Regions from separate parts of the Homo sapiens genome. Here region 2 is linked to region 1. The links come from fine-mapping of genetic effects on gene expression. A gene starts in region 1. The other region holds a variant in brackets. All regions are shown on one strand. Distances are between the middles of the regions. Region 1 holds the start of KIAA0586. Region 2 overlaps KIAA0586.

What was found.
Region 2: its variant is fine-mapped to the expression of KIAA0586 in cerebellar hemisphere (GTEx, PIP 0.93).

What each region holds. Positions count from the first base shown.
Region 1 is chr14:58,422,677-58,434,491 of GRCh38, forward strand. It overlaps KIAA0586, which reads left to right and starts at 5,043. Exons shown (of 31, transcript NM_001329943.3): 1 at 5,043-5,787; 2 at 6,687-6,757; 3 at 7,972-8,041; 4 at 9,712-9,781. The coding sequence starts at 5,589. It overlaps TIMM9 (translocase of inner mitochondrial membrane 9), which reads right to left and starts at 4,855. Exons shown (of 6, transcript NM_012460.4): 1 at 4,716-4,855; 2 at 4,378-4,566; 3 at 1,332-1,419. RefSeq lists enhancers at 3,047-3,990, 5,005-5,054, 5,125-5,314.
Region 2 is chr14:58,469,365-58,481,179 of GRCh38, forward strand. It overlaps KIAA0586, which reads left to right. Exons shown (of 31, transcript NM_001329943.3): 17 at 1,249-1,359; 18 at 2,835-2,915; 19 at 5,243-5,433; 20 at 7,759-7,877. Among named protein-coding and RNA genes, the nearest start is that of KIAA0586, 48 kb to the left of the region's middle. The variant G/T (reference allele first, on the strand shown) is at 7,720.

The DNA.
Region 1 (11,815 bases):
ATATTTATTGAGAATTTGAAAAACAAAAGATAGTTCTACCATTCACAGACCACTATGTTAACACTATGATTTATTTTCTTTAGAATCACTCAATTGTGTATTTTATTTATTTATTTACTTATTTTTGAGATTTATTTATTTATTTATTTTTGAGACAGAGTCTCACTCTGAGACCCAGGCTGGAGTACAGTGGTGCAATTTCAGCTTACTACATCTTCCGCCTCCTGGGTTCAAGTGATTTTGTGCCTCAGCCTCCTGAGTAGCTGGGATTACAGGCATGCACTACCACACCTGGCTAATTTTTGTTTAGTATAGATGGGGTTTCACCATGTTGGCCAGGTTGGTCTTGAACTCCCGACCTCAGGTAATCCACCCACCTCAGCCTCCCAAAGTGCTGGGATTACAGGCGTGAGCCACTGCACCCAGACCAATTTGGTATTTTTTTTTTCCAGACCTAACAGTTGAACTCAAGAGCTAACAATCAGAAGTTTTCTTAAGTCTGCTTAAATCTCTAAAGCTATCCTCGGTAGTCACCAGTATCTATCAAGATTACGGTATAGGCCAGGCACAGTGGCTCACACCTGTAATCCCAGCACATTGGGAGGCCAAGGCGGGTGGATCATTTGAGGTCAGGAGTTTGAGACCAGCCTGGCCAACATGGTGAAACCCCGTCTCTACTAAAAATACAAAAATTAGCCGGGCATGGTGGCACATGCCTATAATCGCAGCTACTCGGGAGGCTGAGGCAGAACTGCTTGAACCTGGGAGGCAGAGGCTGCAGTGAGCTGAGATTGTGCCACTGCATTCCAGCCTGGGTGACAGAGCGAGACTTTGTCTCAAAAAAAAAAAAAAAAAAAAAAAAAGATTATGGTATACATAATTGTAGGCAACTGGTTCAGAGAAAATACTGGAGATGACTGAGTAAATCAATGATTTTCAGAGTTACTTGCTAATTTGAGGTCTTCTAAATTTTTCACTATTCACTTCGCAGTTATTTAATAGTAAGCTTAGACTAACAAATTCCACCAGCCACATAAACCACCTGATGGTGAGAACAGGTAGCAGTAATGTGGTTGTTCTTTTATTTGATCCTAGTTTCCATATATTACAGCAAATTTATGTTACTGTGGCAAAGACCCATCAGGGGTTACCTTCTGATTATATCCCTGAAACCTGGAGAGGGAGAGAAGAAATAAGCAAATTCAAGAATCACTGGCTTAGATCTTGGGAATGATTACAATGATGCTGTTATTCTTGTGGCAAACAAAATATATCCTAGAACCAGGGAACTTAAGAATAAAGGGAGATCTTATCAGTCATCAAGCTCTAACCTTTTCTGATGCATGAGTTTCCTTTCTGTTCTGGAAAAGTAGTTGTCCAACCTTTGCTTGAATGTCTCCAATAAGGCCTGATTCTTACCTGAAAAATGAGGTAATATGATTACTAAGTCCCCTTCAAGTTCTAATAGTCTTTTCAATGAAATGTAAACTTCTATTGGCTAATCATTTATTTTTTTAAAGTTTCTTCCTTTTTAGTAAGTGAAATTAGTTTCCTCTATTCTGAGGTTACAATTCTTTGGCATATGTGTTACTATTAAAAAAAATACTTAATGTCATGCTATCCTTATTTATCCAGGTATAAGTATACATTACACTTCCCTTATGATTTTCCTACTAATTCTGGGAGGGATGGTTCAGAAATCTTAAGAAACTTACATGAGGTCACTTATACAGATAGTAACTGGACAGCTGGAGCCTAACTAAGGTCTTTGGACTTCAAAATCCAGTATTTTCCCCATTGCACCTATAAAATGACCTATTTAAGACCTATAAAATGTCTTATAAGCTATTATGACACATATCATCTATCTAAAAATATTTTCCAAATAGCCAAATATATGTTATAAGCTAAGTGACTGACCAGGTGCAGTGGCTCAATCCCAGCATTTTGGGAGGCTGAGGTGGGTGGATAGCTTGAGCCCAAAAGTTCTACATCAGCCTGGGCAACATGGCAAAACCCCATCTCTACAAAAAATACAAAAATGAGCCGGCATGGTGGTGTGCACCTGTAGTCCCAGCTACTCAGGAGGCTGAGGCAGGAGGATCACTTGAGCCCAGGAGCTTGAGGCTGCAGTGAGCCATGATCACGCCACTGCTCTCTTGCCTGGGTGACAGAAAGAGACCCTGTCTCAAAGAAAAAACGTATAAGCTAAGTCATAAAACCTAGCATCACAAACATGGGTGCCAACATTAGGTATTTCTTGGTGGGATGCAGTAAGACAGCATCACCTATGTGGTATTCTGGCCAAAGTTTGATATGGCTCTAATCATGAGGGAATAATTAGGAAAATCTACAACATGGAACAATTTGTAAGACAACCTGGCTGGTCTTTTCAAAAGTGTCAGTCATAAAGAAAAGGGGTTGAGAGGGCTGATTTAGAGTGAGAAAATAAGGCCAGGCATGATGGTTCACGCCTGTAATCCCAGCACTTTGGGAGGCTGAGGTGGGCAGATCACGTGCGGTCAGGAGTTCCAGACCAGCCTGGCCAACATGGTGAAACCCCATCTTTACTAAAAACACAAAAATTATCTGGGCAGAGTGGCGGGTGCCTATAATCCCAGCTATTTGGGAGGCTGAGGCAGAAGAATCACTTGAACCCAGGAGGCAGAGGTTGCAGTGAGCTGAGAAAATAAGCCTGGGCAATAAGGCGAGACCTAGTTTCTACAAAAAAGTAAAAAATTAGCCAGCGTGGTGGCAAGTGCTTGTAGTCCTAGCTACTCAGGAGGCTGAGACAGGAGGATTGCCTGAGCTCAGGAGTTGAAGGCTTCAGGGAGCTATGATCATGACAGAGCAAGGCCCTGTCTCTGGAAAAAAAAAAAAAAAGAGGGAAAGGAACTAAAGAGTAATGACAAAGAGCTGTAAGATCCAAATTAAGTTGTCATTTTAATAATTCAGAGTGCCTACACTCAGATCTTAGGTCACTGTTTCTTTCACATAAGTTTCACCTAGAAGGTAAGAGTTAAACTATCTCCAAGGTCTCTGGCGACTCTGACATTGTAGTTCTTTCAGTACACTCATAATATACAATAAATTGTGAACAAACAAGTACCACCTATGAGCCCAATTACGAAGAGAAAATGTAACTAAAATAAAAAATAATGGCCACGTGCGGTGGCTCACGCTTGTAATACTAGCACTTTGGTAGGCCGAGGCGGGTGAATCAAGTCAGGAGTTCGAGACCAACCTGGCCAACATGGTGAAACCCCGTCTCTAATAAAAATACAAAAAAAATTAGCTGGGCGTGGTGGCGGGCGCCTGTAATCCAGCTACTCAGGAGGCCTGAGGCAGAAGAATCGCTTGAACCTGGGAGGCGGAGGTTGCAGTGAGCCAAGATCGCGCCACTGCACTCCAGCCTGTGCCACAGAGTGAGACTTTGTCTCAAAAAACAACACAAAACTCATTAGAGAAACTCAGCAAGTTACAAAAAAATAATAATTAAAAGGGTCTTTAACGCTGAGCCCTTAAAGTCTTTTTTTTTCTTTTTTTTTTAAGACAGTCTTGATCTGTCACTCAGGCTGGAGCACAATGGCGCGATCTCAGCTCACTGCAACCTCCACCTGCCGGGTTCAAGCAATTCTCTTGCCTCAGCCTCCTGAGTAGCTGGGACTACAGGCGCGCGCCACCATGCCCAGTTAATTTTTTGTATTTTCAGTAGAGGCGGGGTTTCACCTTGCTGGCCAGGCTGGTCTCGAACTCCTGATCTCGTGATCCGCCCGCCTTGGCCTCCCAAAGTGCTGGGATTACAGGCGTGAGCCACCGCGCTCAGACTTTAAAGTCCATTTTAAGTCTAGACTTCTATGAAGGTAGACTGCCGAGATGTAAAAGAAATAAAATTAGTTATTTAGCTTTTAGATCGGATTACATTTTCTGCTTTGATTATTCTAAAGCCTCCAGTAAGGCGTAAAGGGAAAGCTCTAAGTAGCGCATCCTGGGAAATGAGCAGATCAGGGAAGGGGTGTTAGACCTGGTATTATGTCTAAAGACGATTTTCATTTAAAGGAGGATCTTCCCCCGGGCAGCTCAAGGTCACATCGTAAATACCTTATAGTCTAATTCAGTGTCCCAAAACAGGACCCCGACTCCCCAGATCCGGGTTGGGGGTGGCTCAGGGCCTAAAGTTCCTACCCTCGCCCAGGTGACACCATCTCCAGGAAGGTCTGCACCCGACCCGGCGAAGCGCTGTCCCGCTTCGCACCCCCCACTGCTCCAGGTACGTGCGGCGGCCTCCTCGGGAGACCCCGCCACTTTCCTGGAGCGTAGCCTGCCACCCCCCGTCCGGGAACCCCGGATTCTCACGGCAGAGAACAGACACCATACTTAAGCACAGGCTCTCGCATCCGACATCAGTACAAGGCTGGGGGTTGTTGGGGGACGGTTGAGCCTTGGGAGGGAGGGTCAGGGTCTGGACAGGAGCCGCGGCCGCCAGATGGGAAAGAACACGTGGGAGCAGTAATGTCAAGTGACACTTAAACCCTTAGACGCCGATTCGTTATAACGCGAGGAAATCTAGAAGAAAAAGCAGGTACCATCAGCGAATTCTAAAATCTCCTAAGGATTAACTTCGGTTATTTTCTGCTTAGACAACGCTTTCTATTCCCGACTTCCTCTCCAATAATGACCCGAATCTGTCGAAACTTCTTGGAAGCCTAATTTACCTAATCCCACGTCCCTAACGGTCTTCGGAAGCGAAGCAGTGTCAACAGTCCCTGGTAAACACAAGTAGTATTACAAGTCGGGAGCTCTTCAAGTCTTGGATGAGACTGTAGAGCGGTCTTGTGCGGCAATGTGCTACCTTAAAATAAATAAATAAATAAACCCCTGTTATGTCCGGAGTTTGTTTCCACCCGGAGAGGAATGGAAGAGCACCAGAGAGCGCTTAGCTTTCTGGTTGGATGTTTTGGGTGAGTTTCTTGGCGCGCATGCGTGTTGTGTCTCAAGGGCGGGTTTGAAGGGAAGTGGGTGTTGACCTGCGGGCAACTGACGCTGTTGTCAGATTACACCCACGACGGTGCGGGTCTCGGGCGTTCTGGAGATACGTAGGGGTGAATTTATGTTTCCGACGATTGCATCTGGAGGGGTGTGTAAGACTCTGTGGCTGAAGAAAGCTATTACGCTTCTTATGTGGGTCATTATTTTAAAAATAGCATTTCGCTTTTATTTGCTTGACTGCCTCTTCTCAACAAATTTTAAGCCCGCCACTACATGTGTTTGGTTTTGCCCTACCAGCTCTGGGGTTGGGGAGTGCACTGTTATGGTTATTGTTGCTCCTGTGGCCATTCTCTTGTCATCCCCACTTTCACATTTTGGCGTGGTGTATTAATAGACTGAGTGGGATTAATGGGTAAATATGACTTTATAGTCAGCTCTAATCCTGGATTCAATATCAGAATTTAGATTTTCAGCTTTGTGGATGTTCGACATTTTAAAAACAGTTATTGCAAAGAGGTGAAAATTTTGTTCTGAAGTCTTAAGGAAACAGAGAAAGTTTTTCCGTCCTTAAGTGTGGGACTTGTTTTGTGACCAACAATATGAAAGGCTCTGAGGTCAGCTTGGAGAAGAAAAAAAAGATTAAGATGCCAGTGAAGAGACTTCGTGAGGTAGTTTCTCAAAATCATGGAGATCATTTGGTTTTGCTGAAAGATGAGTTGCCCTGTGTTCCTCCGGCATTGTCTGCAAATAAACGTCTTCCTGTTGGAACGGGGACTAGTTTGAATGGAACATCACGTGGTATGTGATTCCATGTAGTTTTTCAACCAGTTTTAGTTTAGTAAATCTTTAGTCCTTATTTGTTTAAATTCCCAAACGTAAGATATAAGTCTAGTTTGTACAGATGTTTGAAAACTGACCCTGTTTCCCGGGAAAATGGCCAGGAAGCCTATAAAATGTTTGAATAGATGGAATGAATGAAACTTTAACGTCCCCTGTTGTGCTTTTTTTTTTTTTTTTTGCATTGACTTTTGCATATTTTTTTTTTTATATTTATGGTGGATACACTTAACTTGTATAATGTGCTTTATTTTCCCCCACGTAGTGTTTTTTATAGTTTTCCCCCAAAGTAGTGCTTTTTACCTAATTCACTACTTTCTTTTCATAGTGGGAAAAGCAGGACTTCTGCCAATTGATGGCTTCTATATTCCAATTCACTTAATCTGTCTAGAGCTCAGTGAAAATAAGGATAACATATGCTTTACCCACTTCGCTGCTAATTGTGAGGATTAAATTAATGAATATGTGAGCAAAAACAGCAAAACGCTTTTGTAATGCTGTTCTTTGGGGGATACAGCGGTGACACTCAAATAGTACTGCTGTTAAATTAGACCTTTACATCGTATACATATTTCTACCCATAGTTTGTCCACATCCAATAGTGTATGGTTATATTTTAAAATGTTTCGTGCTTAATCTCACTTTATTGTCAGTACCGAACCTTATTTTCCCAAATATCAACTGTAAAAACTTTCATTCAGATATGTTTAAATACATTTTCTTAACTTTTTTTGCATGCAAATTGTCTTTCCAACTTCTGCGTTATATGGAGTTTATAGATCTTGAATCATGCATATACAGTTTCTAAAGCTAAGGATCTGATTTTAAAATCACTAAAATCTATTCCTTTGTTTTGTTAGGTTCATCAGACTTAACTTCTGCTAGAAATTGTTACCAGCCTCTATTAGAAAATCCCATGGTGTCAGAAAGTGTAAGCAAAAGGATTCTTAATTATGCTCACGTTAAAATTTTCAGTATTGTCAAATAATGCATTCTTAAATTATGTTTGATTAGCAGCATGCCTTGTTTTTATTTAAATATCACTTACCAAAACAAATGTTTTATATACTACAATTGTGACTTTGAATGGTGTTTGAGACATTAAACAAAAGGCCTTCCCTAGAATCAAAAATACCTATTAGTAAGATAATGGCCGCTGAAAGAGATAGGATAACTGAAAAGAAACTCTCTTACTATTCAGGGAAAAGGTGTTCTTGCCCAGAGACTTAACATGTTCTTAGGTAAAAGAAAAGGAACAACTAACAGTACAATTTTTCTTTAATGTGAGGTGTGCTTGCATGTCATTCTAACACTTGTGAGAATGGTTTTGGTTTTCTTAGAAGGGAGGTTCTTTAAGAATAACATGAAATTATCATCTTAACTTTATAATGCCGAAAGTATTTGATAAATACAATGTTTTGGTTATGAGATCTAATCAGACTTTGACGGCTAATCATAGTGTTGACCTATGTATTGTCAGTTTAATAAGTCTGTATAATGAGAGTTTCACAATATGCTATTTTGAAAATTGAAGCTGGCAAACTAATAATTCAATTGAGACTATATGACAATTTTGTCAAAAGCTCACAATAAAATGTATAATTATTTGCTGTACTTGATCCCTAAGTAAATGCCTAGACTTTGGAGTGTTTTTTTGTTGTTTTGTCTTTTTTTTTTTTAAGCAGGCCTTATTTAATGATATCTAAACTTCTCAAATGTATGGATACACTGTTATTGTATAATTGAGAATAAATGGGTGATCTTCGTGATGTTGTGCCATCCTTATCTACTCCATTTGACTCACAGTGAGTCAGATTTTCACATTTCACTGAAGCAACTGAGATGTTAAATGACTTGCTCTGCTACAAGTGGCAAACTGGTTTGAGTCTGAATCTCAGTGCTACATTTGCTTGCTGGTTCATTTACTCATTCATTCACTTGTCTGATAGTGTATTACTCACCCATTCAACAAATCTTTGAGTAGCTTTAAGGTACATCAGAATTGCATGATGATGGAAATGAAGAATATGAAATACACAGTCCTGCCCTCCCAGAACACAGTAGTCACATAGCTAGTAAACGGTTCTTGATAAATAATAAATCATGAAGTTTATTTAGCCTATTTCTTCCTTTCATATCCCAAAGGATTTTTCTAAAGACGTTGCAGTGCAAGTGTTGCCTTTGGATAAAATAGAAGAGAACAACAAGCAAAAAGGTAAAAGAATAATATTGATTTTTTTAAATTGTGACAACATATACATAACATAAAGTTTACTACTTTAAAATGTACAGTTCTGTGACAGTAAGTACATTCACATTGTTGTACAATCATCATCACCTTTCATATCCAGAGCTTTGTCATCTCTCCCAACTCTACCCATTAAACACTAACTGCTCATTTTTCATCCCCTCAGCCCTGGGCATCCTACTTTTTGTCTCTATGAATTTGACTACCCTAGGTACGTTATATAAGTAGAATCATATAGTATTTGACCTTTTGTGACTGGCTTATTTCACTTAGCATAATGTTTTAAAGGTTCATCCATGTTGTAGTATGTGTCAGAATTTTCTTCTTAAGGGTAGAATTTATTTTTAAACATTTATTACGTAGTCTTATAGTTTTTATTATTTTCATTTTAAATTAGTTTTTCTTCCCAAATTAAGCTATCACTAGAAGCTATAAAATCCAGAATAAGGTTTGCAATGGTGAAGGTTATCTTGTTATTACCAACCTATTGCAGAGGTTTAGTATTAGATATGTTTATAAATTTTTTTTTTGAGACGGAGTCTCCCTCTGTTGTCCAGGCTGGGGTGCAGTGGCGTAATCTCAGCTCACTGCAACCTCCAGCTCCCGGGTTCAAGCAATTGTCCTGCCTCAGCCTCCTGAGTAGCTGGGATTACAGGTGCACACCACCACACCCAGCTAATTTTTCTATTTTTTTTTTGTAGAGACAGGGTTTCACCATCTTGACCAGACTGGTCTCAAACTCCTGACCTCAAGTGATCTGCCTACCTCAGCCTCCTAAAGTGTTGGGATTACAGGCGTGAGCCACCGTGTCTGGCTCCATATGAATTTTAAAATAGTTTTTTCTAATTCTGTGAAAAATGATGTTGGTAATTGAATAGGAATTGCATTGAATCTGTAGATGGCTTTGGGCAGTATGGTCATTTTAACGATATTGATTTTTCTAATTCATGAGCATGGAATGTTTTCCACTTATTTGTGTCATCTGTGATTTTTTTCATCAGTGTTTTATAGTTCTCCTTGTAGAGATCTTTCACCTTCTTGATTAAATGTATTCCTAGGAATTTTATTTTTTGTGTGCCGCTGTTGTAAATGGCATTGAGTTCTTGATTTCATTCTCAGCTTGAATGTTATTAGTGTATAGAAACGCTACTGATTTTTGTACGTTGATTTTGTATCCTGAAACTTTACTTAAGTCATTTATCAGATCTAGGGGCATTTTGTAGGAATCTTTAGGGTTTTCTAGGTATAGGACCATGTCATCAGTGAACAGAGGTAATTGGACTTCCTTTTACTTTTTGGATGCCTTTTCTTTCTTTCTCTGTCTGATTGCTCTGGCTGGGACTTCCACTACTGTATTGAAAAGAGTGGTAAGAGTGGGCATCCTTGTCTTGTTCTAGTTCTTAGGGGGAATGTGTTCAACTTTTGCCCGTTCAGTATGATGTTGGCTGTGGGTTTGGGATTATGAGGATTATATTATTACTTAATCACTTAATTTGTTCCTTGTCCTTTTCGATCGTGGAATGCTATGGCTGAGTTCCTAAACATTCTTTTAGTTAAAAAAGATTTTTTTAGTAGCTTATTAAAGTTTAATAAATATTCAGGAATTTAATATATATTTTTGTGTCTTGATTTTGCAGCAAATGACATCTTCATTTCTCAGTATACAATGGGACAGAAAGATGCTCTAAGAACAGTTTTAAAGCAAAAGTAAGTTTCATTTACAGAAAATAATTGGACCATTTCTTATGTAAATCAGCTTCATTTGTACTTTGGACATATGAAAAACCTTTTCACTATGTGAAATATATATTGTGTGATATGTATAAAGCATTTCTCATGGTGCTAGACACGTATAAAATACTCAGTAGCAGTTAGCAGTTATTATTATGGAAGTGCTATAGTATTAACTCATTTAACACACTTATAAAATAGATTTACTATCCCAATTTTATAGAATCCCCATTTTCTTTTATTTATTTATTTATTTAGAGATGGAGTCTCGCGTCGCCCAGGCTGGAGTGCAGTGGCACAATCTCGGCTCACTGCAACCTCTGCCTCCCAGGTTCAAGCAATCTCCTGCCTCAGTCTCCCAAGTAGCTGGGATTACAGGCACCTGCCATCATGCCCAGCTAATTTTTGTATATTTGTAGAGATGGGGTTTCACTATGTTGGCCAGGCTGGTCTTGAACTCCTGGCCTCAGGTGATCTACCTGCTTCGGCCCTGCAAAGTGCTGGGGTTACAGGCGTGAGCCAGTGCGCCCTGTGGTTAATTTAATTTTGCGTTAGAATCTAAGGAAGAGCCACACTTTACATTTGAATGATATGTCTCTTAAGTTTGTTTTTGTTTTTGTTTTTTTTAAGACAGGGTCTCGCTCTGTTGCCTAGGCTGGACTGCAACCTCCACCTCCTGGGTTCAAACAATTCTCCTGCCTCAGCCTCCTGAGTAGCTGGGATTACAGGCACACACTACCACGCCTGGCTATTATTTGTATTTTTAGTAGAGATGAGGTTTCACCATGTTGGTTAGGCTGGTCTCAAACTCCTGACCTCAGGTGATCCGCCCACCTTGGTCTCCCACAGTGCTGGGATTACAGGTGTGAGCCACCATGATCAGCCTTCAGTTTGTTTTAATCTACAGATTTACCCTTATTTCGTTTTTCTTATAATTTGTTTGTCTTAAGAAATTTTCTACCTTCTGGATTTTGCTGAATGTATCCTTTTGTTGTCTTTAACATGTTTCTTTCAACCTTGAATTTCTGTCAAGTGGCAAGAATGCTTGATAGGTGATATTATATACTTCCTGTGTAATACATCGGGATACATAGATATCTGATTTTATCTCTTATTGTGAAATTAGGATTGATCTGTTAATACACCACCTTTTTGTATCAAATTACAGCATATGGAAATTTGAGGACAAAGAGTCTAAACAGTCAATTTTAGAAATTTAGCAGGAAAATAATTTCTTATAAAAGCTGAAGGAAGCTGGGCATGGTGGCTCATGCCTGTAGTCCTAGCACTTTGGGAGTCCAAGACAGGAGGATCACTTGAGCCCAAGAGTTTGAGACCAGTCTGGGCAATATAGCTAATTTTTTTAAATTAGCCAGATATGGTGGTGTGTGCCTGTAGTCCCAGGTACTTGGGAGGCTGAGGTGGAAGGATCACTTGGGCCTAGGAGTTTGAGGATGCCATGAGCCATGTTCATGCCACTGCACTCCAGCCTGGGTGACAGAATGAGACCCCGTCTCATCAGAAAAATAGGGAGACAGACAGACAGACAGATGCTGAATGATAGGAAAAAAGCAGGGAAAGCAGAAGAAATCAAGTATACCAGATAAAAGAAAACATAAACACAGTAGAATGTTTTCAACTAGTTCTAGAAGTACGTCAGTGTAATAAGCAAATCTTGGACAAGTCTAAGTCAGAAAACTGGTGAGAGAATGCATGTTAGAAGTAAAAAGAGGACATAATGATAGACTTAGAAGGTATTAAGAATACAGTGTATTAAGAATACTGTGTACATGAATGCTACAAATTAAGAAATCTAGATGAAAGAAATAACTCACCAAAAATAACCATATAACTAAGAAGATTTTAATAGGCCAGTTACTGGGAAATAAATTTAAAAAAAACCTTCAAAGAGCAATCTCCAAAAGCAGTCATGATTTTGTTTGAGTTCTTGAAAAATTTTAAGAAACAGATTATGATCATGCTATATATTCTGCTCCAGAGCAATGAAAA
Region 2 (11,815 bases), 47 kb after region 1:
TCCCAACATGAACCCAAGTGTGTTCCTCTCTTATAGCAGTCTTTGGGCATCCTTCTGACAGCGTAGGCCCACTAACCCAGTGGTGCAGCAGCTATGGAGGCTTCGGGAGACCTGGGGACACTTCAGCCTGGACAGCTCCCTGAGCCAAGTACAAACCCGGTCAATGTGTATTGAACGAATGAGCATCACTAGCACAGTCAGTCCATGGAGGAAATTAGAGGATCTAGATCAGGGGGCAAAGAATCCTGAATTAAAAGGCAAACAACACACAGTAAGAACATATGAAACGAAGATGCTAGTAAAGCATTAATTTTTAAATATAAAGATCTCTATAAATTAATAAGAAAACACAGATCCAAGTCTAGAAATGTTCAAAGGACATGAATAAGACTCTACAAAAGAGGAAGTACAGTTTATCAGCAAGCAAACTAAATAAGTTTTGCCAGTAACCAAGATAATGCAAATTGAAATAACAATAAGATGCATCCATTTAAAAACTATTATTGCTGAAACAATCATATTATCTAATTTTGGTGAGGGTTGGGTAAAACTTAGACTTAATTATGTTTTTGATGATGTAAATAGAGGTTGTTAGGATTACATTTCACCAGTACTTCCAAGAATCTTAAGTATTCGTGTCCTGTGGCCCAGAAAGTTAATCCAATATCTGGCTATCTAGTATAGTGAATTAATTTAGGGTTTAGGAAGAAAATGTGTGTGTGTGTGTGTGTGTTTATGTGTGTGTAAGTTTTTTTTGTAGTGATATATATATAATAGTGGAAAAATTGGAAATTTCCTAAATTTTTCCAATTGAAACATAATTAAATAATTAAGACATGTTTGTTGAAATGTTATATAGTCATTTAAAAATATAATTATGAAGTCTATACAAAAGCATGATAAGTGTTTATGGTTCTTGTAATCAAAATGAAAAATCAAGAATGAAAACTATTTTAAATTTTAGTTATGTATAAGTAGATAGTAAAAGACAAAGGGAATAGTGAAAATGAAGTCATCTTAAGATAGAATTTTGTGTGTTTTCCTCTTTATTTTTCATATTTTATAAAATATGCTTTCATAATTAAAAAATTTTGTTATCCATTGGGTTCACAATAAAAACTTAAAGGGCATGCTTTGTTTTTATGTATATGTGTATACACACACACATATACATGTATATACACATACTCATAAAAATATTTGAGTAAAAATGATAAACAGAAAGCTGAATGTTGTATTCTGTTTTAGGTATTACCCAGTGTAGATATTGACAGCATTTCAAATAGTAGTGCTGATGTCCTTTCACCTCTGTCTAGCCCCAAAGAAGCATCTCTTCCTCCTGTGCAAACTTGGATAAAGGTATATTTCAGAATTTTATCATATTATTTTGAGTAATGTCTGACTGTAGATTTTAACTAATTACTCCATTTAAAGCCTTTTATCATAATGATAACTTATAATAATTTAGATTTTGAAGAAAAGATTGAAAACAATTTTTTTTTTTTCAGTCAGAGTCTTGCTCTGTCGCCCAGGCTGGAGTGCAGTGGTGTGATCTCAGCTCACTGCAACCTCCGCCTCCCGGGTTCAACCAATTCTCCTGCCTCAGCCTCCTGAGTAGCTGGGATTACAGGTGCCTGCCACCACGCCCGGCTAATTTTTGTATTTTTAGTAGAGATGGGGTTTCACCATGCTGGCCAGGCTGATCTTGAACTCCTGACTCCAAGTGATCCCTCTACCTCGGCCTCCCAAGTTCGGGAATTACAGGCGTGAGCCACCACGCCAGCCCAAAACAAATTTTGAATTGTTTATGAACTTGAAAGTTTGTTTCAGATCCTTACATTTATAACTATTTGGAAAGTGATAATCTTTAGTGTAACTTTTTGGTAATTTAAGTTGTGAAACTCTCATGTGAAGAAAGAATTTCTGTCACTTTGGTGATGAATCTTTGATTTACATGGGAATTATAGATATCCTAAATGAATTTTATAGTGACAGTTGGGAGTTTATATTTTGGAATGTTACCTTGTTATCCCACTGTTGACATGATACAAAAATATGCATTTCTTCCTGGCATTTATTTGCTTTTGAATAATGAAGTTATGGCTTTACTACACAGCAAAATAGCACTGTAACTTACCCCAGGTTTTGTTTATTGTAAGCAAACTTGGCCAAGGGTACAGTTTTAAAAGGAGAGAGAATACCAGCAATCTTTCATGATCATAAGTAATGAAATAGAACTGTCCGTAAGTGACATTTGTGCTTAATTGAATTTTTTCATCAGTATTTTTTTTTAACCTTCTGTTTATTGAAACTTCTGTGATAACAAGCAATAAATTTTTGGACTGTTTATCATTCTGCTGTCAGTAAGAGGCTATTGCATGACTACATTTTATATAATGAGGCCTAATGATTAGATTTGTAAAATGACTATTTTGTTTTTTTTCCTGAATTATTTGATTCTGTATCCATCTTCATGTGAGTTCATATATGTTTATACTTAGAGATCTACACATGTAAACACTTTCCTTTATCTTAATTCTGGAAGAGAAGTCTCAATTATATCAACCTGTTGATCAATTAAGTGATATTGCTGATGGAGTCCTTTACAGAAAAACAGCTGATTAATTTTTTAAAGCTATTGAAATGTTGACCTAATGGCTTGGGGACTAGCTTGGATTTCATTTACTAATTAAATCAATTCTGAATAGGGTATTAAAATGATTAAAAAGGACCATGTAATTATAAGCTTATACTATAGGTGGAAATATGATAAATTACTTATAAATTTTAAAAGTGTTAAGCACAACAAAAACTTTCTGAAAATGCTTTCTTAGACTCCAGAAATTATGAAGGTAGATGAAGAAGAGGTGAAGTTTCCAGGAACTAACTTTGATGAAATAATCGATGTCATACAGGTAACAAAGCTTAGAAACCATGAGAAATTATTTTTCTACCGGTATTTTTCCAGGTTGTTGACTATCTTTGGACTATCAATATTATGTTACAGTGCTTTGAGATACTTTCTTTTACTTTTGAGTTAAATATACTTTTAAAAATTATAAAGTTGTTATTCTAGAATGTCTTTAATCTATATCACCTATCTGCCTTCATGAAGCTTCATGATTATCTGCCGTTCCCCACCTAGATTTTGTCTATCTGTTTCCTGCTTTCTTCTTTCTTTCCACTTCCTTTGGCTTCTTTTCCTCCAATTTGTCTTTTTTTCTTTCTGTTAATTTTGGTTTTTGGATTCATGGTGAGGTGACTAGTTAATTGATATTGAGAAAAAAGTTGTGAGAAATCTATAATCCAAAGGAATATCCCATATGGAAGGAAGAGTTATAGAAATGATAGAAATAATGAAATAGAGGGAAAAATAGGTGGAAGTAAATTATAAAGGATGGGACAAAAGATCATAGAACATTGAAACTACTTGACCATTATGTCATTAGACTTTAAAGAACACATTTGATCAAGTTTCTTTGACTTTTAGAGCTAAGATCAGTTTTGTTAATCATAAAATGAAATCCAATTTTAGAATATACAGAGGTGTGCAGTATATTAATGTTATTCGCTCACAGATATGTCTTTTCTCATGTGAGTGCCACATGAGAATTTTGAAGACAGGGACCTTATTTATTTTTATATTCCTAATGCCTAGCAAAGGTACTTGGTAATTGTTTATGCAATATACAAGCGAAAGAAATGGTTATAGAAGTAGCAGAGAATTTAGCATTCAAAGACAAGTGTTCCTGTATTAGCTCTGCCATTTATAAGCTGTGGACTTCATTTTTCAATGGAATAATATTACTGAGTTGTACTATTTAGAGAGACCCAAAGTGTTTTTGATTGAATTATTTATAGATAAAATGATGTGATATCTGTGATTTGCTTCAAAATGATATGTGAAGGGGAAAGTGGCTAGATGAGACAAGATTGACCATAAGTTGATAATTGTTAAAGCTGGGGAGCGGATAAATGCAATTCATGTTATTTATGTAACAGATACAGTACAAGGACACTATTTGTTTACTTTTAAACACATATGATTTTTTTGTAATAAAAACTTTAACAATTCCAGAAATAACTCTATTGGTTATGATGTGGTAATGCAAATAATTTGTAAGATGACTGACCTTATTGCATATTTAAATGTAAATTATAAGTTGTATAAGAGCAAAAAGTGATTTTGGAAGTGTATTAGTGTATTTTGCATTGTTATAAAGGAATTACTGGGTAATTTATAAAGAAAAGAGACTTAAGGCCAGGTACAGTGGCTCATGCCTGTAATCCCAGCACTTTGGGAGGCTGAGGCAGGTGGATTACCTGAGGTCAGGAGTTCAGGACCAGCCTGGCCAAGATGGTGAAACCCCATCTCTACCAAAAATACAAAAATTAGCTAGGCATAGTGGTGGGCGCCTGTAATGCCAGCATCTCGGGAGGCTGAGACAGGAGAATTGCTTGAACCCAGGAGGTGGAGGTTGCAGTGAGCTGAGATCGCACCATTGGACTCCAGCCTGGGTGACAAGAGTGAAACTCTGTCTTAAAGAAAAAAAAAAAGTAAAGAGATTTAATTGGCTCGTGGCTCTGCAGGCTGTACAAGAAGCATGGTGCCAGCAACTACTTCTGGTCAGGACCTCAGGAAGTTTTACTCAGATAGAAGGCTGTGAGGGTCCAGATGTGTCACAAAGCAAGGGAGGGAGCAAGAGAGAGAGGAGGATGTGCCAGTCTCCTTTAAACAATCAGCTCTCATATGAACTAACTTATTACCATGGGGAGGGCACCAAGCCATTCATGAGGGATCTGCCCCCAAGACCCAAGCACCGCCCACCAGGCCCCATCTCCAACACTGGGGATCACACTTCAACATGAGATTTGGAGGGGACAAATATCCAAACCATATCAGGAAGCATCAATTTTTTAACGATAATTATTAAGCATACATTTCTAGAGAGAAATAATAGTGTTTTATGTAGGAATAATTATGTTTTCTAGTTTATTTTGTGATTGCATAAAATGAATATTGGGTTCTAAAAAGACAAACTGATTGTGTAATTAAGGGTTCCTCAATATGATATGTCTGACTAATGTGTATATTATAATTAATGTGATACCACCTAATTAGAAATGCTGTTGGTTAATTTAGAAGGGTTTCTTAATTCACCTAGTTCCTTGCCTATAGTTGGTACTCAGTAAATGTTGAACAAATACATGAATATAATAGTTTTGTTTTTGTTACTACCAGGAAGAAGAAAAATGTGATGAAATTCCAGACTCTGAACCAATTCTGGAGTTTAACAGAAGTGTTAAAGCTGATTCTACAAAATATAATGGTCCTCCATTTCCGCCAGTTGCTTCTACTTTTCAGCCCACTGCTGATATTCTGGATAAAGTAATTGAGAGAAAAGAAACACTGGAAAATAGCTTAATTCAATGGTAAGTTTATAATGTTTTTGGTATGAATAGAACCATAGTAGAAAATATAAATGGAAAGTATTAAAATGTGGCTGAAAATATTCCTTGTCTTCTTTTGTTTATTAAACTTTCTTTGCTTTAGTCACTGGAAAGTGTTTGATATAATGCTGAGGGCTTAACTATTGTTGGAGGTTATTGTTTTTGTCCTTGAATATTTGTACTCAATCTGTCTACTCTGGCACAAGTAGACTATTAGGAAGCCTTAAAAATGTACATGTTCTTTAATCCAGTGATTCATTTCCAGAAACTTATCCTAAAGAAGTAATTATGGTTTGCTGCTAGGCCAGGGCCACGAACCAGTACCAGTCTGTGGCCTGTTAGGAACCAGGGAACTAAGCTGCACAGCAGGAGGTGAGCAGCGGGTGAGTGAGCATTACTGCCTGAGCTCCACCTCCTGTCAGATCAGCTGTGGCATTAGATTTCATAGAAGCACAAACCCTATTGTAAACTGTGCATGTGAGGGATCTAGGTTGCACGCTCCCTATGAGAATCTAATGCTTGATGATCTGAGGTGAAACAGTTTCCTCCCGAATCTATCCCCCCACCCCCTACCCCACCACCCCTGCCCTGGTCTGTGGAAAAATTGTCTACCACAAAACCAATCCCTGATGCCAAAAAGGTTGGGACTGCTATACTAGGCCATATAATACCTAGCACTACAAAGAGGGCACTGTTCTAGGTTTGTTACATACTGATAACAACAAGCTGTAATATGTTATTATTGTTACATATTACAATAACAATTGTAACTTGTTACATATGAATATGAAATGAACGCTATTATTTGTATTTTTACTTGTAAGAAACCTTAAGGAAGTTATGGAATAAGTGAAATGGCTGAATATTAATATAGTCATGAAAATTAGGTTTAGAAGAAATTTAATGATATAAAAAGATATTAATAATGTACTGGCATATAAACAAAGCAGGATACTAACAATGTAACCCCAGTTTACAAGATCTTACTCAAAAGTAAGTAGGCAGCTAGCACAGTGGCTCATGCCTGTAATCCCAGCACTTTGAGAGGCCAAGGTGAGTGGATCACCTGAGGTCAGGAGTTCGAGACCAGCCTGACCAACATGATGAAACCCCGTCACTACTGAAAAAATACAAAAATTAGGTGCGATGGTGCACACCTGTGGTCCCTGCCACTCGGGAGACTGAGACAGGAGAATCGCTTGAACCTGGGAGGTGGATGTTGCAGTGAGCTGAGACTGTGCCACTGCACTCCAGACTGGGCGAAAGAGTGAGATTCTGTCTCAAAACAAAACAAAACAAAAAACTGTGCATAAAACAAAAGTTTGAAAAAGCATACATACCAAATTAACTGTGTTTATTGCTGAACCTAGGATTATAGGTGAGCTTTATCAATTTTTTAAACTCTTACATTTTTTTCTAAATTTTCTACAATGAACACCTATTATTTATATAATAATTTTTAAGAAGTCTATTAACTGCACTAAAGAAATGTTCTAGAAGTCTCCTGTTCCCCTTTCCCTTCCTGAAGATGACTTTGGAAATAAATTTTTTCTTTACATTTTAAGAGGAAAACTACCTATAATACAGCCTATATGTGTATTACCGTGAAGAAAGGGCAGCTGGACATCTTTTCTAGCTCTGATCTGATATGGTTTTTATGTGTGCACTCAGAGTGGAAATCAAACAGTTTAGGTACATGATATGCCAGATAGTCATTGGCCCAAGTCTTATTTTGAGTTTAGGAGTTCTTTTAAGCTTTTCATTAGACTAATCTGAAAGATTTTAATTTGATTTCATAAACTATCTCCCACAAGGAGATTCTGTTTAGTGTGTTTTATCTTCTTCAGAGGTACTTTTTTTTTTTTTTTTTGAGACAGGGTCTCACTCTATTGCCTAGGCTGTAGTGCAGTGGTGTGATCACAGCTCACTGCAGCCTCAACCTCGTGGGCTCAAGCCATCCTCCCACCTCAGCCTCTTGAGTAGCTGGGACTACAGGCACGTACCACCTAATTTTTGTATTTTTTGTAGAGACAGTGTTTTGCCCTGTTTGCCAGAATGGTCTTGAACTCCTGAGCTCAAGCAATCTGCCCAACGTGGCCTCCCAAAGTGTTGAGATTACAGATGCACCATGATGCCCAGCCCATTTTATTTTTTTTCTTCTAGATTTAACTTTCAGAATGACTGCTTTCACACCAACATGTTTGTGGCATTGGTAAAGGTTATTTTTAGGGGTGGTATGTCTAACATTTTTTACATTTCAATCAAATT[G/T]AGGAATCTTAACTTTTATCTGCCCCACCATCCTCTCAGGGTAGAGCAAGAAATAATGTCAAGAATTATCTCTGGGCTCTTTCCAGTCCAGCAACAGATTGCACCTAGTATCAGTGTTTCAGTCAGTGAGACAAGTGAACCACTGACTTCTGACATTGGTAAGTGAAATAGAATTTTTTTTTGTTTTTATTAAAAGACAAAAGCTTTAGTTCATCGTGGATTTATATATTCCAGAGGTCAAGTAAATTCTCCAGTAACAAAAGGTAAGCTCTTCTAACCTTACTTCTTAGTACTTCTTTGGTGATGGTTAGTTCTCTCTCACCCTCTTATTTCATATTGCAGCTTTCAGATTATTAAACCACTCTTCATACCTCCCACCCCAAATCTCTTTGTTATCCCCATAGTACTTTGTACATATTTTTGTTATAGTAATTATCAGATTATATTAAGGTTGGTTTCCATATGTACCTCACTCTTTATACTATAAATTACTCAGGATTTAAGGATGTTTCTCCTTTTGTGCCTAGTCCTTGCCTGATACCCAACAAGAGTTTAAGTATTCATTGAATGGTTAAAATGAGCCTCTTTCTTTATGGAGCCTATGCCATTCTTTTCTCCATTTTTTTCTTTTCTTCCTTTCTTTATGGTGCCTATGCCCTTCTCTTCTCCATTTTTTTCTTTTCTTCCTCTTCTTTTTCTCCTTCCCCCTTTTCCTTTTCTTCTCCTGCTTCTCTTCCCGATTTTTTCTTTTCTTCCTCTTCTTTTTCTCTTTTCCCCTTTCGCTCTTCTCCCCATTCTCTTCCCCATTTTTTCCTTCTCTTCCTCTTCCTCCTGTTTTTCTTCCTTTCCACCTCCTCCTTGTTTTTTTGAGGTAAGTTTACTTGCCATAAAAGTCACCACTTCTAAGTGTACAGTTTGACAAGTTTTTTGTTTGTTTGTTTTAATTAGAGCCAGGGTCTCCCTCTGTCATCTAGGCTAGAGGCTGGACTGCAGCGACATGATCATAACTCACTGTAACCTCTAACTCCCGGGCTCAAGCAACTCTCCTGCCTTAGCCTCCCAAGTAGTTAGGACCATAGGTGTGCACCACCATGCCCAGCTAAAAATCATTTTGGGTCCAGGCACACAGTGGCTCACGCCTGTAATCGCAGCACTTTGGGAGGCCAAGGAGGGCAGATCACCTGAGGTGAGGAGTTTGAGATCGTCCTGGCCAACATAGTGAAACCCCGTCTCTATGAAAAATATAAAAATTAGCTGGGTATGGTGACACACACTTGTAATTGCAGCTACTCCGGAGGCTGAGACAGGAGAATTGCTTGAACCCAGGAGGCGGAGGTTGCAGTGAGCCAAGGTCACGTCACTGCACTCCAGCCTGGGCAATAGAGCGAGACTCTGTTTCAATCAGTCAATCAATCAGTCAATCAATTTGGTAGAGATGGGGTCTTGCTATATTGCCCAGGCTAATCTCAAACTCCTGGCCTCAAGTGATCCTCCTCCCTCAGCCTCCCAAAGCACTGGGATTACAGGAGTGAGTCACCGCACCTGGCCCAGTTTCACAAGTTCACACAGCTATATATTAGCCACATAATCATGAGATAGAAAAACATTTCTGTCTTCTCCAAAAGCTTCCTTATGCCATTTTGCAGTCAATTCCTAAACCTCACTCGTGCCCACTGGCCCCTAACAACACTGATCTGCTTTCTATTACTGTATTTTTACCTTTTCTAGAATTTCATACATATGTAATCATGCAATATGTAGCCCGTTGTTAGCTGGCTTCTTTTATTAGCATAATATTTTGACAATCATGCTATTGCATGTAGTAATAGTATAATGTATAGATATACCATAATTTGTCAATCCATTTACCAGTTGATGGACATTCATAGTCTTTCAGTTTTTGGCTATTATGAATAAAGCTGCTATGAACATTTGTAAGCAAATCTTTGTGTAGAAACCTTTTAATTTTGGTTGGTCATATGATAAGTAAATGTTTAACTTTATAAGAAACTGCTAAACATTTCCAAAAGTGGGTGTACTATTTTGCATTCCACCCAGCAGTGTATGTGACTTTAGTTGCTCCACATCCTCCCCAACACTTGGTGTTGTCAGTGTTTATAATTCTAGCCATTTCTGAACATATGTGGAGGTATTTCCCTAACTATACTAATACCTGAGTAGTATAATTATTAATGATGTACAACTTTTTAATGTGTTTATTTGCCATCTGTATATTTACTTTGGTGAAATCTCTTTAAATCATTTGACCATTTTTAAGTTCGAGTCGTGTCTTCATATTACTGAGTATGAAGTTTTTTATCTATTCTGGATACAAGTCCTTTATTGGATATATGTTTTGTAAATATTTTCTTCTACTTTGTGTTTTGCCTTTTTGTTTTCTCAGCATTATTTTTTGAAGACAAAAAGATTGATTTTGAAGAAGTCTAATTTATCAGGTTTTTTCTAGTAGTTTGTAGGGATTTTTGCATGCTGCTTTTAAAAAAATCTTTGCTAACCCAAGATCATTAAGATAGTTTCCTATGTTTTCTTCTAGAAGATGTATGGTTTTAGATTACACATTTAGGCCTATAGTATATTTTGAGTTAAGTTTTATGGTGTGAAGTAAGGATCAAGTTCTTTTTTGTTTGGGGTTTTTTGGCATATGGATATCCAGCTGTTCTAATACCATTTGTTGAAAAGATTATCATTATTCCATTGAACTACCTTAACACCTTGGTTGAAAATCAATTGGTTATATATGTGTGCATCTTGTTTTTGGACTTTGTATCCTGTCTCATTCACCTGTAAGTTATACTAATACCATACTTCTTGATTACTGTAATTTAATAGTAACACTTGAAATTGGATAGTGAAAGTTTTTCTAACTTTGTTCTTTTTTTCTTTTTTATTCCTGTTTATCATTATCTCTACTTTTTTTCTTCTTTCCAGCCTCAGGATAAGCTATTCTTTCTCCCTCATAGACTATCCTTTAACAGCCCGAATCCTAGACTTCAGAGTCTATATTCACCACTTTAATTTCTCATTACCTACTTCCTCTTTGGTCCTTATAGGTTGGCCTTCTTTTGCCCTCCCCCTCAAGAAACTCCTTTCTCACAGCATTTGCTTGTCAAAAATGTTTCCCTTTTTCAAATCCTTGTTTTACTGTATGGCTCAAGCATAGGCACTATTGACCATCTCTGATGCTTAAACTCTTCTCCTGGTGTTGGCTGCTTAGACTTCATTCTGTTAATTCTTCCTCTTTTAAAAAAAAAAAAAAAAAACTTCTTTAAGACCTTCATTTTCTCATTTTATTTTCTGCTACTTGAATAAAATTATTTCCCTAGTTCCCATGCTTTGCCCTCTTTTCTGTTTTCTTCCAGTTTCCTCCTGACATTAGTTATCCTGTGTCAGTTGATGAACCCTAAGCCATGTATTTGGGCCGACAACTTGCAGTTCTGCTGGTTGATGAATATTGTGCTTGATGCTCCCCTGGCATCTCATCTTTAGTATGTCTAAAATTCTTCTCATTTTTGAGATCACAGTTCTCCCAGCACCCAATCTCTAAAGCCTTGGAGTTATTATTTGTTCTATTTTCTTTGCTTTGCTCTTCTTCATTCCCCACTCAGCCATACCCTATATCCCAGCTTCATAGAGTTTATTGTTGCATTTGGCTAATTTGTCCTATTTAGCATAGCTCACATGCCTCCTTCTGTTGTTACTATCCCAGTTTTCTCTCGTCATCTCATCTTTGAAGGGAGGACAAAAATAAACAACAAATTTATGAGAAAATTTTTTTCCTGGTGAAAATCTGACATTTTACAAATTGGGTATTTAGATCCTGTTTTCTTCCCTGTCAAAGATTTGTGTTTGCTTTTGTTTTGCCAGTGTCTGGGTAGGGATTTGGGACCTTATAAAAACGATGTTCTGATTTTGGGCCATGCTCAAAGAATGAATTATGGAAACTAAAAAGGAGATGTATCAACATATATTGTTGAATATGAATTTGGGATTGGGATAGTCTCTGCTATGGTAACTCAAGAGCAAATTGCTGTTACTTACCCCGTCAACAAGTGATCCCACTAGACGTCTACCCACT